Linked DNA regions of Homo sapiens. The protein of the gene in region 2 purifies or fractionates together with the protein of the main gene of each other region. This does not show direct contact. Each region holds a gene or a part of one and is shown on either strand. Other genes may lie near its edges.

Region 1 (7,585 bases), about 87 Mb from region 2:
TACTGTCAGCCCTGTATGTTTGCATCAGAAGGGGTCTTAGAGACTGCTGAGTCCAGGCTGCTCCATCTGGATAACAAACCCACTCTCTAGCTAACAACTCAAACATGTCAGGTTTGAATCAGTCACAATCTTATTGACATGGATCAAAACATACATGAAGTCAAATGAGGAAACAGAGGCGACGGCTAAGGAAGGGTGGGAGGAAGTAAGATAAGACCTCCTCCAACCAAGCTGGATAATCTGCTCAGATAGAGGCTTTTCCTTTTAAACTCTTTCATTGCTGTTCATCATAGAAAAATGTGAAAATGTATGAAAATAAAAAGAAAAAATAAATGCCCAATACTATCAAGGGATAACAACTATTGTTAACAATTTGGTTATTTTCCCTTTAAATCATTTTTCTATGTATATTAGAAAAAATTGTTTTTCATTAAATTGCTTTCTCCTTTATTCATGAAATGCTTTGACATACTTCCCCATATTCTTTAATATGGCTTGAAAGTATGATTTTATAGTATCTATATGAAAAGTTTATCAAATGGATGGACCATAATTTATTTTAAATTTCTCCCATTATTGGATATTTACATCACCCTTTTTTTTGAGGGGGGGGAAGGAAGAGAACCAACATTTATTGAATGCCTGTACCTTAACAACAGCACTATTCTATTAGTTTTATCTCAACTTTCCAAGAAATGGAAATCAGAGGGGTCAAATAATATGCCCAAGGCCACTCAGACAGTAAATAGAAGGTCCAGGATCCAACCAAGGTGTGATTTAAAAACCTATATTCTTTGCATAGTATTCTTTATTTTATTTTATTATTATTATACTTTAAGTTTTAGGGTACATGTGCACAATGTGCAGGTTTGTTACATATGTATACACGTGCCATGTTGGTGTGCTGCACCCATTAACTCGTCATGTAGTATTAGGTGTATCTCCTAATGCTATCCCTCCCCCCTCCCCCCACCCCACAACAGTCCCCGGAGTGTGATGTTCCCCTTCCTGTGTCCATGTGTTCTCCTTGTTCAATTCCCACCTATGAGTGAAAACATGTGGTGTTTGGTTTTTTGTCCTTGCGATAGTTTGCTGAGAATGATGGTTTCCAGTTTCATCCATGTCCCTACAAAGGACATGAACTCTTCATTTTTTATGGCTGCATAGTATTCCATGGTGTATATGTGCCACATTTTCTTAATCCAGTCTATCGATCCCCTTATTTTTTATAACATTAAAAGTTGAAAATAATACCATGGGAGCTTATAAACCTACTTAAATATAATGTTGTCTATTAGTCATTTGATAGTAAGTAGTTCTCCAAAACAGAGTAATACCTGGGACACTGTAGGTCAAGGCAGAGTACGCATTAGTGACCACAAGAAGCAGCATACTCCTTAGGTGTAGGCACGGGGGCACTGGACCCATGTCATCATCTCCAGCTTACTGGACAATTAGCCATCTGGGTCCTTGAACTTCTCTACTAAAAGCAGATCAGATAGTAGAGTCAATCAATATCACAAACCATCATTTAGTAATAGCTTGACCGCTATTACTAAACTTGTGTCAGCCTGGGCAACATGGCGAGATCTCCTCTCTACAAAAAAATTAAAAAATTAGCCAGGCATAGTGGCATGCGCCTGTAGTCCCAGCTACACAGGAGGATGAGGTGGGAGGAAAACCTGAGCCTGGGGAGGTAGAGTCTACAGTTAGCTGTGATCACGCCACTACACTCAAGCCTGGGCAAAACAGTGAGATCCTATCTCAAAAAAAAAAAAAAACATGTGTAGGAGAAAGGATGGTAAATAGCTGTGACAGATGTTTTGTGTATAGCATTTAGTGAATTTGTGGGATATTCCTCTGAAATAGAAGGTAAACTAATTGGTCTTTCTCCCATGGGCATCTGGAGGAGAGTTCTCTTCCACGTGTTTTTTCTGCTGGGCACAATGGCCAGAATGTCCTAACAAATGGATATGGATGCCAGCCAGGCAACAGCAAATAGCACACTTCCAAAAGTAGCCTGGGGGCTGTGAAACCTCTAGAGCCTGTATTAGTAGAACCCAAATATACCTCGCTTAGTTTAACTGCCAATCAGAAAATTAAAACAAATTAATAATCTAGTTCATACCATTTATAATGCTGGAAAGCCTCCCTCCTAGAATAAACGGACTGCCTAAAGGGCTGCCTAAAGCAAGCCAGAGAAAGAAGAATATAACTTACTGGAAGGGGAGAGTTTCAATTGCCCTCTTGAGTTACATACACACAAAAAAGCTCCAGTTTAGATCTCAGTTTCCAAATTAAAGATCTGAGGTGAAAGGAACATATTTGTGTTTGCCTAACATAAGCCATATAAAATATAGTAAAATTAAGTCTGAGCCAGTCAATGTAATAAAACAATGTTATTCTTTTATGGCCGGGCACGGTGGCTCACATCTGTAATCCCAGGACTTTGGGAGGCCGAAGCAGGTGGATCACCTGAGGTCAGGAGTTTGAGACCAGCCTGGGCAACATGGTGAAATCCTGTCACTATTAAAAATACAAAAAAATTAGCCTGGCGTGGCGGCAAGCACCTATAATCCCAGTTAGTTGGGAGGCTGAGGCAGGAGAATCACTTGGAGCCAGGAGGCGGAGGTTGCAGTGAGCCGAGATCGTGCCAGCCTGGGCAATAGAGCAAGACTCCGTCTCAAAAAAAAAAAAAAATTCTTTTAATTAAAATGAGAAAAGCAACATTCCTAATTAAACTTTGTGTCTAACACTGTTTCTCCATGGATTTTTGTGAAAGAGATTGCTTTTCAAATCTAACTTTCCCAGAGTTATCTAGGATAATTCATATTCTAAGTGCAGAAAAACAAACAGAAAAACAAAACAAGCACAAAGTAGTAAGGACAACTTTCTCACCCCTCTCCTGCAATGTATATCTGTTTGACAGAGATTTGCGTGAACAAGCACAAACTCTTCTTTTTGTGTTTACGCCAAGAGAACTCTGGACATGCAAACAGAAAAGGACAAGGACCAAAGAAGTGCCTTACAACACGACTAGAAGAATCAAGTTACAGGTCAATTTGTCACATGTGGGAAGTAATCAGTGTCACTCATTATTCAGAACACTGCAAAGAGCTGAAATCAATGCTTCAACACAATAACACAAGGTGGCCAACAAACTCATGTAAAACACCACACGTCACTAGTCACAATATCTGATTACAAACAATCCCTACAGGCCCATATGGGAGTATGTCAAGAGTATGTCAAGTTTACTGGAAAGTGTTAGTAAGGATGCAGCATGTGCACTTACCTGACCAGTGCGTCTGGTTTGCTTAGCTGGTTATTAGGAATACAGTTTTCCATTAAGTCCTTGTGTGTACTTGGGCTCTTGCTAGTGCATTTCTGCTTCTTCTCATTTTTACTAGATGAGGAAGGAATGCTCCCATTTGTGGCGCTATGACTTCGAGGTGAAGAGTTCACAACTCCACTGGCATTTTTGTAATTTTTTGAGGAAGCAGTGCATGAGTCCTCTTTCAAGAGATTTTCTGTACTTCCCACAAGATCATTATTTAATCTTTTACTATTGATATGGTTTTCCATATACTCAATCTCTTGTATTTTAGAGTCTACAGGTTGTAGAATATTGTTGTTATTTATTCCAAGGTTGTGTTTTTTGGCATCCTTGTCCTTTTCTTTCCCTTTTTCTCGGTATTCTATCTCTGGCAAAGTTGTGGAGAGTTTTTTGTTGGCTGGGATACCTCCATTGTGGTGTATAAGGATCGAAGAATCCATATCAGGTAATCCTTTGGCTGCTACAATACCAAAAACAAACCAACAAACAAAAAGCCCCCACCGGAATATTTAGTTGTTTAACAACACAGATTAATTCAACAAACTATTATCTACACTTAAGAAATTCACATTAGTTTGCACACTCATTATACGCTAATCAAGAAGCAAATCCTCATAGTTTACTAGAAGATGTAGGAAAAAATAGAAGAAAATCCAAATACATTTGAGAAACTCTACATTTAGAAAATCATCATCATTTATGAAAATGATGGCCACTAAAGGTCTAGTCTTGAAAACAAGATCAGGGTTTTATAATTAGGTCACACTTTGTGTATTAGTCAAATCAAACTCGCCTATCACTGAGGTGAGAGGACAAAGGCAGATCCTAAGAAGTCATATTTTTTTAAGTGCCTGGAGTAAACGAACTGTTAATAACTTTACTGAAAAGAAAGAGGTTAAATGAAACAAAAGAAGAGGAATAATTTTAGGATACAGGACATCTATCCTTTTTCTGGACTCTAGTGTTGAGGTAATAAGGAAGTCTGTATCATTTACCAGACCACTCAGAAAGAATTTTGTGTATTGGGTCTACACATTCCAATTTATTAAGGTCTACTTGAAGAGATATTTTTGCACCACATCACACAAAAAGAAAATTTTGAAATATATTAAATAAAAACATGACCTCAAACTTTCAACTTTCAAACCAATGGAAACTAGCTACTGCCAATTATCTATTTCTATTGGTCAAATGCCCATGAGAGAGATTCCATTAGAAATGGTTCAATTTAAAATCTGCATTACATTATATGAAGCATTTAGAACACGACCTATCCATCTTGGCTCTATTCAGAAGACATCTGGCTTCTGAAGTTCAATTCTACATGTCTACATCTCCATTGTGCTTATACTTTGGTTCTTGGCTTGCTTCAATTACCAGTTCACATAGTTCCATAGTATTTTGTTGCTGAGAATATATATTTTAAAATACGTAAAACAGGCTGGGCATAGTGGCTCATGCCTGTAATCCCTACACTTCAGAAGGTGGAGGTGGGAGGATTGCTTGAGATCAGGAGTTTGAGACTAGCCTGAACAACACAGTGAGACCTCATCTCTACAAAAAAATAATTAAAAAAAATTAGCCAGGCATGGTGGCACGTGCCCATGGTAGCAGCTGCTCAGGAGGCTGAGGAGGGAGGATTACTTTGCTCCCAGGAGTTTGAGGCTGCAGTGGTCCCTAACTGTTATCACTGCACTCCAGCTTAGGCAACAGAGTGAGACCCTCCCTGTCTCAAAAAACTAAATTTAAAAAAAAATCAGAATTAAAATATAAAAAAGATATAAATATATTTTAAAATAATAAAATAAACATATTTAAACACATAGTCTTCAGACAGTATGTAAAAAACTTCATTCACCATCTGTATTTCATTGACCAAATAAAACAATGACCCTGAGGAGGAACACCATTAGACAGAAAAAAACAAAATCCTAGCTACTTTTCCAGAAAAGAAAATTCTACCAAGAGACAAAATAATGACTAGCCTATTGAGCCAACAGCTTTAGGGTAAAGACCTACCTTCCTCGGCCTCTTTTTCTTGCTTCTGTAGCATCTGTTGCTCTGGAGGGAGAGCTTGTTGAAGAAGTTGCATGTAAAACTCGTTCTCTTTTTGTACTTCTTTTTGCTTCCTTAACCGCATTTTGTAGCTTACGTAACTTTTGAAGCCAAACCCCAAAGTTACCACAGGGTACCCAATACTAGAAAGAAGACAATCCAGCCAGTAATTGTAGGTTTAAAATGAACCACATGTGCCTCAAGCACATGAGAATACCTATGGCTTAAAAATTAAAAATAAATTCTAATTGATGATGGTAGTTGAGAAGAGCATTCACTAGACACACAAATAAATGTAATGTCTACTGTGGAAATCAGAAGCAACTGGCACACAGAACAAAACCCCCAGGAACAACAGGACTGCTAGACCGTAAGACGACACTTCCCATTAGACGTTGGCATTCTTCAAATTAATTCAAGGAGTCACCACAGTGACTGTCAGATACAGTGGCTAATAATGCCTTTGAAGAAATATTGAAGAAACTGCCTTATGCATTAGAACTTAGGCAGATACCTGTACCCTTTTTTTTTTTTTTTTGAAATGGAGTCTCGCTCTGTTGCCCAGGCTGGAGTGCAGTGGTGTGATCTCGGCTCACTGCAACCTCCGCCTCTCGGGTTCAAGTGATTCTCCTGCCTCAGCCTCCTGAGTAGCTGGGACTACAGGCCTGCATCACCATGCCCAGCTAATTTTTGTAATTTTAGTAGAGACAGGGTTTCACCATGTTGGCCAGGATGGTCTCGATCTCTCGACCTCGTGATCCACTCGCCTTGGCCTCCCAAAGTGCTGGGATTACAGGTGTGAGCCACCACGCCTGGCCTGTATGCTTTTAAAAACTAAAAGGGTAGAGACTTTACAGGTAGCCAAAAGTAAACATAAGTGTTAAAAAAAAAAATCACAAGGACATCATTTGATTTTCAATACTAGAAGGCAGGGTCAAATTCAGGTGACTAATTTAATCTTCTTGCTGCCTGAGGGGTACTGTCACCAGCTATTCCTTGAAGATTGGTTCACAAACACTCTGTCATATATAAATTCTGTCATACATAAATTCAAGAATCATTTAAATAAGTATCCGATATGATCAGTGCCAAGATTTGGTTTGTATCACCAAATTAAACCAGCTGTACTTAGAACTCTAATCTCTGGGATAGAAAGTTAAATATTTTCATTGAACTTACCAGCCTGCCTAACATCATTTCAAAGCCTCTGCAAACACTGTCAAGCCCATATAAGTTTCACTAACATGAAAATGTATCAATTTATAATTAGTCTAAATGTGGTCTCACTACAAACTTACGGTGACATGTTTTACTGACCAAGTTCATTTAATTTACTTGTTTGTAAAAAGACTAAAAATACTGGAAACAGTATTTTTTTAGTTGATTACTGTTTATTTTGGTTTCTGCCATAAATATTAGTAAAAATTGGTGTGTTTAGGAGAAACATACATTAGGTGGTAAGTTCCACAATAGATCTAAATAAGAACCAAGCTCATTTTTCAAAAATGTTTCATGGTTAAGATTAAATGAATAATATCTTAATATTCATTAACATAAAGAGAAATAATATTCATTCAAAAATTATTAATAATATTCTCTTACTTTTATAAATAGGCTAAGGAAATTCTAAATTATTTTAAGTTTCATGAATTAGCCATATATTTCATCAAGACCTTCTGGAATCATTACCTGATTATAATAAACATAGCTAACATTCATCAGACACCTATGTGCTTGGCATTAAGTTGAATACATGTATCACTTCAGTTCCTTTTTCCCATGACCCAGTGAGGCAGGTAAGAAAACCATGGCTTAGAGGCAGTGACAAGGCAACACAAGCTGTCAGAGGACAGAGCTGGGATTCACTCATCTGCCTGAAAAGGGGGGGCTCATGGTCTTTCCAACCATGCTGTACTGCTTTCTGGATCCATGTAAAATTTCTAAGAATAAATTTACAGTTGAACTTAACATTCTACAGTGAAATGAATTATAGACAAAGAATATATATAATACTGGCTGGGTGCACTGGCTCACACCTATAATCCCAGCACTTTGGGAGGCTGAGGCAGGTGGATCACTTGAGGTCAGGAGTTCGAGACCAGTCTGGCCAATATGATGAAACCCTGTCTCTACTAAAAATACAAAAATTAGCCAGGTGTGGTGGCACGCGCCTGTAATCCCAGCTACTTGGGA
Region 2 (7,585 bases):
TTTGTAATTAAACTATTAAAGAAATGAAATTTGTAACTCAAAGTCTTCTCACAAAGAAAACTGAAGAATCAGATGGCTTTAATAACAAATTTACTAATCATTTAGGGCAGAAATAATTCTAATTTTATACAAATTATTCCACAGAATAAATAAACAGGGACCACTCTTTAACTCATTTATAAATCCAGGGCCAGGCATATGTTTGCTCACACCTGTAATCCCAGCACTTTGGGAGGCTGAGGCGGGCAGATCGCTTGAGCCCAGGAGGTGGAGGTTGCAGTGGGCCAAGATCACACCACTGCACTCCAGCCTGGGCATGAGAGCAAGACCCTGTCTTCGTTTTTTCTTTTCCTGTTTTTTTTTTTTTTTTTTTTTTGAGACGGAGTCTCACTCTGTAGCCCAAGCTGGAGTGCAGTGGTGCGATCTCGGCTCACTGCAACCTTCATCTCTAGGACTCAAGTGATTCTCCTGCCTCAGCCCCCCAAGTAGCTGGGACTACAGGCGCACCCCACCACACCCGGTTAATTTTTTTGTATTTTTAGTAGAGACAGGGTTTCACCATGCTGCCCTGGGTGGTCTTGAACTCTTGAGCTTAGGCGATCCACCCACCTCGGCCTCCCAAAGTGCTGGGATTACAGGTGTGAGCCACTGCGCCCGGACTTTTTTTTTTTTTTTAATGAGACAGAGTCTCACTCTGTCACCCAGGCTGCGGTGTAATGGCACTATCTCGGCTCACTGCAACCTCTGCCTCCTGAGTTCAAGCAATTCTCCTGCCTCAGCCTCTCGAATAGCTGAAGAGTCTGTCTTAAAAAGAAAAAAAAAGCCAGACGCACTGGCTCACGCCTGTAATCCCAGCACTTTGGGAGGCCAAGGCGGGCGGATCACAAGGTCAGGAGATCGAGACCATCCTGGCTAACACTGTGAAACCTCGTCTCTACTAAAAATACAAAAAATTAGCCAGGCGTGGTGGCGGGCGCCTGCAGTCTCAGCTACTTGGGAGGCTGAGGCAGGAGAATGGCATAAACCCGGGAGGCAGAGCTTGCAGTGAGCCTAGATCACGCCACTGCACTCCAGCCTGGGCGACAGAACAAGACTCCGTCTCAAAAAAAAAAGAAAAAAAATCCATAAATAAAAAGTACAGATAAAAAACATAAAGGGAGGAAATAAACATAATTAATAAATAAGAATACAAATGAATAAGAATAGTGGTTACCTTTAGGTAGGAAGGGAGGTTGTAATGGGAAAGGGCAGTCAGGTAGGCGTCTGTGGGTTGATAATGTTCTGTTTCTTGATCTCGATAGTTTTCAAGCATTTACTTTGTAATAAATCATTAAGATGCACATTTTTGTCTCATACACTTTGCTGCATGTGTAGTAGAACTCATAATAAAAAGTTTACAAGGCTGGGCGCGGTGGCTTATGCCTGTAATCCCAGCACTTTGGGAGGCTGAGGCGGGCGGATCACAAGGTCAGGAGATCGAGACCATACTAGCTAACATGGTGAAACCTCGTCTCTACTAAAAATACAAAATAATTAGCTGGGCGTGGTGGCGCGCACCTGTAGTCCCAGCTACTTGGGAGGCTGAGGCAGAAGAATCGCTTGAACTCTGGAGGCGGAGGTTGCAGTGAGCCAAGATTCTGCCACTGTACTCCAGCTTGGGCGAAAGCAAAACTCTGTCTAAAGAAAAATAAAAGTTTACAGTACTCACTCCTTATCCTCAGTACATATGTTTTAAGACTCCCAGTGGATATCTGAAACCACAAATAGTACCAAACCCTACGTACACCATGTTTTTTCCTCTAAATATATGCCCATGATAGAATTTAATTTATAATTTAGGCACAGTAAGAGACTAATAACAATAACTAATGATAAAATAGAACAGTTATAACAATATGTCAATCTTGCATTTGGGGTCACTATTAAGTAAGATAAAGGTTACCTGAACACAAGCACTATGATACCATGACAGTCGATCTGATAACCGAGTTGGCTACTAAGTGACTAATGGGCGGGTAGCATAGACAGTGTTGGATATGCTGGACAAGGGGATGAGTCATGTACTAGCCTGGATGGAGGGGGATGGTGTAAGATTTCATCAAGCTACTCAGAACGGCATGCAACTTAAAACTTATGAATTGTTTATTTCTGGAATTTTCCATGTAATATTTTCAGACAGAGGCTGACTGTGGTAACTGAAACCATGGAATGCAAAACCATAGATATGGGTGAACCGCTGTCTTTAAATTTATGGAACCAGTGTCACTTAATGAGAGAATGGTATAAATATTTGTTGACTCTCTTTCTTGGATTTAAGTACTTTTCTTAACCATATCTTTACTTACTCTAACAGGCTTACAACATCCTTTTCTTGGAAATTATCTTTTAGCAATTAATCTCTTTACTGTAGCTCTTTAGCTTCCAAGCTCTATTAACACCCTTTCACTGGAATCAATAGCTATAATTACTTTCCGTAGTAAGGGCATCTATTCTTGAATTGTCTATACTTCCTAACATGGGGCATTGTTTGTAGAACCCCAATTTTTTTTTTGAGATGGGGTTTCACTCTGTCACCCAAGGCTTCAGTGCAGTGGCGTGATTGCAGCTCACTACAGTCTCGACCTCCTGGACTCAAGCAATCTTCTCCCCTTGGTCTCCCAAGTAGCTGAGACAACAGGAAGCATCACCACACTCAGATAATTTTTATATTTTTTGCAGAGATGAGGTCTCACCACATTGCCCAGCCGCTAGTCCCAAACTCCTGGGCTCAAGTAATCCTCCCACCTCGGCCTCCCAAAGTGTTGAGATTATAGGCATGAGCCACTGTGCCCAGCCCAAACCCCAAAATTTAATTTTGTGTTGTAACACACAAAGATTAAGCAATAATTTGTATAACTGCAAGGTGTACAATATAAAGACAAAGCAAGTATATAGACTCATTGGGGACGAAATAAGCATCAGCCAGTTTTTCTGGGAATTTCCACATCTGCCTCCTATCATTGATTATTTTAATCTGTTTGTCTTCAGTTTTTGTCTACCCAACCCTAGTTCAAAACCCAGGCATCTGTCTAGAAAAAGCTTTCACAGTAACAGGAAATTTGATTTAGTGATAAGAAATATGAATAATCTTTTATTAAGACCAACCCATTATTTATTTTCTACAACTATACTAAAAGAACAGCTAAGTGAACACAGTTCAAATTATATTTTGATAGTAATTACAAAGCATATAGCTAACTATTGCTCCTATCTACCTTTCTAAATGCCTAAATGTTTCAACGTCCCCTGTAAGGTGAATAATAAGCATCAAAATATAGCAGATTAAAACAATTCTGCACCAAATTATGGTGACCCAGACTCTGGTCTACGAACTGTCATCAATTTGATAAACTTAAATAAAGGTAGTATTTTTATCATAAAATTTCTCACTTTTGGAACATGAGGATTAAATTCCACAGCTCTATGAATTGCTTCCACGGCATTAATTTCTGCTGTGCTTAATCCTCTTCTGGAGGCTGTTTCTGGAGAGAATCTACAAGAAAACCACAAAATGAAAAAATAAATATGCTAAAAAAAAGAAAAAAAGTATGAATTTAGATAATAATACAGCCCCTTGAATCAAAAGAAGTTTCTGGAGATGGCCAAAAACAAAGCCAGAGGACTAACAAAAAAAAAAAAAAAATTAAAGCTGGCCGGGCGCAGTGGCTCATGCTTGTAATCCCAGCACTTTGGGAGGCTGAGATAGGTGGATCACCTGAGCTCAGGAGTTAGAGACCAGCCTGACCAACATGGAGAAACCCCGTCTCTACTACAAATACAAAATTAGCTGGGTGTGGTGGTGTGTGCCTGTAGTCCCAGGCACACATGGGAGGCTGAGGCAGGAGAATCACTTGTACCCGGGAGGCAGAGGTTGCAGTGAGCCAAGATTGTGCCATTGCACTCCAGCCTGGGCAACAAGAGTGAAACTCTGTCTCAAAAAAAAAAAAAAAAAAAAAAAAAGTATAGTCTTGTGGGTTCAACATAGAAAAAACAAAGCAGCATAAGGAATGAAAGTCTTCAAACTTAGGTAAAGAAGGCCTTCAGGAGAAGTCCACTGAAGGTACACTTTAGGAAAGGTAATAAAGTAATAAATGCAACACAGTGATATCCAGAGAATCTCATGAAATAGCAGTACATTCTTATCAAATTCTTATTTGAGAGGACACAAATGGAAAATTCCATTCTAATTCATATCAAAGCATAAAAATCTAAGGTGAAAGAAAATGGCCACTATTTGGTTGGTTTCTGAGTATCTTACCTGCACAATAAAGAGAATTCACTAAGAGTAGCCAAAAATACAAGAAAAGCAGAAGAACTCAGAATTATACTCTAAGAAGAGATAACATAAGCCTATTTCCCTACTACACACTTTATCATCATCATCATAGTTACTATTTGGTGTGTGTACTTTCTTTCTAGATATTGCTTTAGGCACTTACCACACATAATCCTCCTACAACCCTCCTGCAATATTAGTCTCATTTTACAGATGAAGGAGAGACTCAAAATGATTAACTTGCCTACAGTCCTATAGCTAAAATGTGGTAGAGTTTGAATTTGAGCTCAGGTTAGCTCTAAAAACTTTGCTCTTTCCACTACACACAGCAAGAAGCCTAAAAGCCCAAGAAGATCCAGGGCTATTCAGAAGGAAGTAGAGTGGAAAACAGCATTGTTTAAAGTCAGTAGAGGACAAGCATAATACTGAGTTTAGCAGTCTTTCCAAATCATTGTAGTTTTTATAACACGTACTTTTCTGAAACAGTCCTTGTCTTCAACAGTGCTGCTGTGTAACAGATTGCTGCTGACTTTGGAAGGCTTATATCTGTAACGATAATTTTCAATTTAGGTAGGAATTACAAAAAAGGTATTGAGACAATTTTTTAATAAGAATAATTCACGGCCAGGCATGGTGGCTCATGCCTATAATCCCAGCACTTAGGGAGGCTGAGGCGGGTGGATCATGAGGTCAGGAGTTCAAGACCGGCCTGACCAAAATGGAGAAACCCCGTCTCTATTAAAAATACAAAAATTTGCCAGGCATGGTGGCGCATGCCTGTAATCCCAGCTACTCAGGAGGCTGAGGCAGGAGAATCGCTTGAACCTAGGAGGCGGAGGTTGCAGTGAGCCAAGATTGCGCCATTGCGCTCCAGCCTGGGCAACAAGAGTGAAACTCCGTCTCCAAAAAAAACAAAACAAAACAAAACAAAAAAAAGAATAATTCACAATGCAATGCAAATTCAATAGTTATATAGGAAAAACCTGGACGTGATGTTGAAAAATCTATAATATAGTAGGAAAAACCCGTATATGAAGTTGAAAAAGCTGAATCTGAATCTTTATCTTACTATTTACCAGCTAAGCATCTTTGAGCTAGTAGCAACTTGTTTGACCTCAGTTTTCACCTCTCAAAATAATGATATTTTCTGACCGAGATGAAATTATGTCTATGAAAGCCGTCTGCACAACGGTGAAATGCGTTCAACCAATGTCTACAATAACCTGCTTATGGACGGGCGTGGTGGCTCATGCCTGTAATCCCAGCACTTTGGGAGGCTGAGGTGGGTGGATCACGAGGTCAGGAGTTCGAGACCAACCTGGCCAACATAGTGAAACCCTGTCTCTACTAAAAATACAAAAAATTAGCCGGGTGTGATGGCAGGTGCCTGTAATCCCAGCTACTCAGGAGGCTGAGGCAGGAGAATCACTTGAACCTGGAAGGCCGAGGTTGCAGTGAGCCGAGATTGTGCCAGTGCACTCCAACCTGGGTGACAGTACGAGACTCTGTAAAAAAAAAAAAAAAAAAAACAATAAAAAAAAAACCTGCTTATAGTAAGTTCAGGGGAAAAGGCATGGTATAATTAGAACTATGTAAAACCTTCACCTATTCATAGAGAAAAACTAATATTAGAAAAAAATTAAAATATTTAACAGTAGTTAAATCCAGGTTGATTCAACCGAGGGTGATATTTTTCTTCTTCCTAGATTTATTTTTCTTAAATTATTATTTTTTAGAAAATAAAAATTTCATCTGGAACTGTAGGTAAATTAATTATATCAATCATTCTCAAAAGAATATCCAAAATAATGCTATCAGAAGATGTTTCTGATCCCAGAATCATACTAGCAAATGGAGAACTAAGGAAGTAAATTTGCTTTCAACTTCCTCCAGATTCTGGAATGGTAAAAACTGGGACTCATGAAAATAACTGAAAATACAGAAGCATATCAACTTAGATATGCTTTATTAGTTTTAGTTTTATTTTATTTTTAATGAATCAGGTCCTATTCCAGTTTGTTACATTCAGTCCCTAAGCTTGCTCATCATAAGTATTATAAGCAGGCCATGTATCCAGTAAGTTACATATGGAAAGAATTTCTCACAAATTTCTCCATGAGCCTACACTATTCTGAAGCATTGCTTAAGAATTCCAGATGTTTAAAAGAAGTAAACTTCTCTTTCCAAGTATAACACATTTCAAACTTCCCAAGTCATGGGGATTCCCAAGCAAATGGGTAGGAACCTATAACAGGACAAATGTGAATAAACGACCTTTTTCTTTGTTTTTTTTGTGAGATAGGGTCTCACTCTGTCACCCAGGCTGGAATACAGTGGTGCAATCTTGGTTCACTGCAACCTCTACCTCCCAGGCTCAAGAGATCCTCACACCTCAGCTTCCCGAGCAGCTGGGACTACAGGCGCATGCCACCACACCCAGCTAAATTTTTAAAATATTTTTTTTAGAAATGGGTTTTCACCATGTTGCTCAAGCTGGTCTTCAACTTCTGAGCTCAAGCAATCCACCCGCTTCAGCTTCCCAAAGGGTTGGAATTACAGGCATGAGCCACTGTGTCCAGCCTTCAATGTGACTTACATGTGTTCTCGTATAGTGAAAGATACCACCAGAAGCATAGTAACCCCAAATTTTCAGCTTGAGGTTAAAAGCTGATGCCTCTCTCAGGATAAGAAGGGAGGCTTTATGTCTTTAAAATTCTCCAAACTTCATGTGTGGTAAACTGGTATTGTTATAACATAATAATAAAAATAACTGCCAGGTGCGGTGGCTCACGCCTGTAATCCCAGCACTTTGGGAGGCCGAGCCAGGCAGATCATGAGGTCAGGAGATCGAGACCATCCTGGCCAACATGGTGAAACCTCATCTCTACTAAAAAAAATACAAAAAAATTAGCCAGACATGGTGGCAGGCACCTGTAGACCCAGCTACTCGGGAGGCTGAGGCAGGAGAATGGCGTGAACCTGGGAAGCGGAGCTTGCAGTGAGCCGAGATTGCACCACTGCACTCCCGCCCAGGCGACAGAGTGAGACTCTGTCTCCAATAAAAAAATAAAAATAACCAATATATATTGAATTGTTACCATGGAAAGACTAATGAACTAAGAAATCAAACACCTGGATTTGCCTTTTACTGGCTGGGAGACCTTACTCCAATACTTTAACCTTCTTAAATTCCAGTTCCCTTATTCAGTTAATTGGAGACAGTAAAAATACTTGTCCCACAACATCATAAGACTATTATAACGATCATAT

Evidence for each region. Proteins that work in one complex are often made in the same cells at the same time.
Region 1: the proteins of ST7L (region 2) and MACO1 purify together in Homo sapiens (co-immunoprecipitation; 2 studies listed by BioGRID and IntAct, with this or other methods). This does not show direct contact.

What each region holds. Positions count from the first base shown.
Region 1 is NC_000001.11:25,454,603-25,462,187, reverse strand, and holds part of MACO1 (macoilin), read right to left. Parts: intron 5,536-7,585; coding exon 5,357-5,535; intron 3,798-5,356; coding exon 3,296-3,797; intron 1-3,295. UniProt on the Homo sapiens protein: Plays a role in the regulation of neuronal activity.
Region 2 is NC_000001.11:112,573,557-112,581,141, forward strand, and holds part of ST7L (suppressor of tumorigenicity 7 protein-like), read right to left. Parts: intron 5,821-7,585; exon of another isoform or gene 5,751-5,820; intron 4,862-5,750; coding exon 4,789-4,861; intron 3,533-4,788; coding exon 3,430-3,532; intron 1,678-3,429; coding exon of another isoform or gene 1,570-1,677; exon of another isoform or gene 1,558-1,569; intron 1-1,557.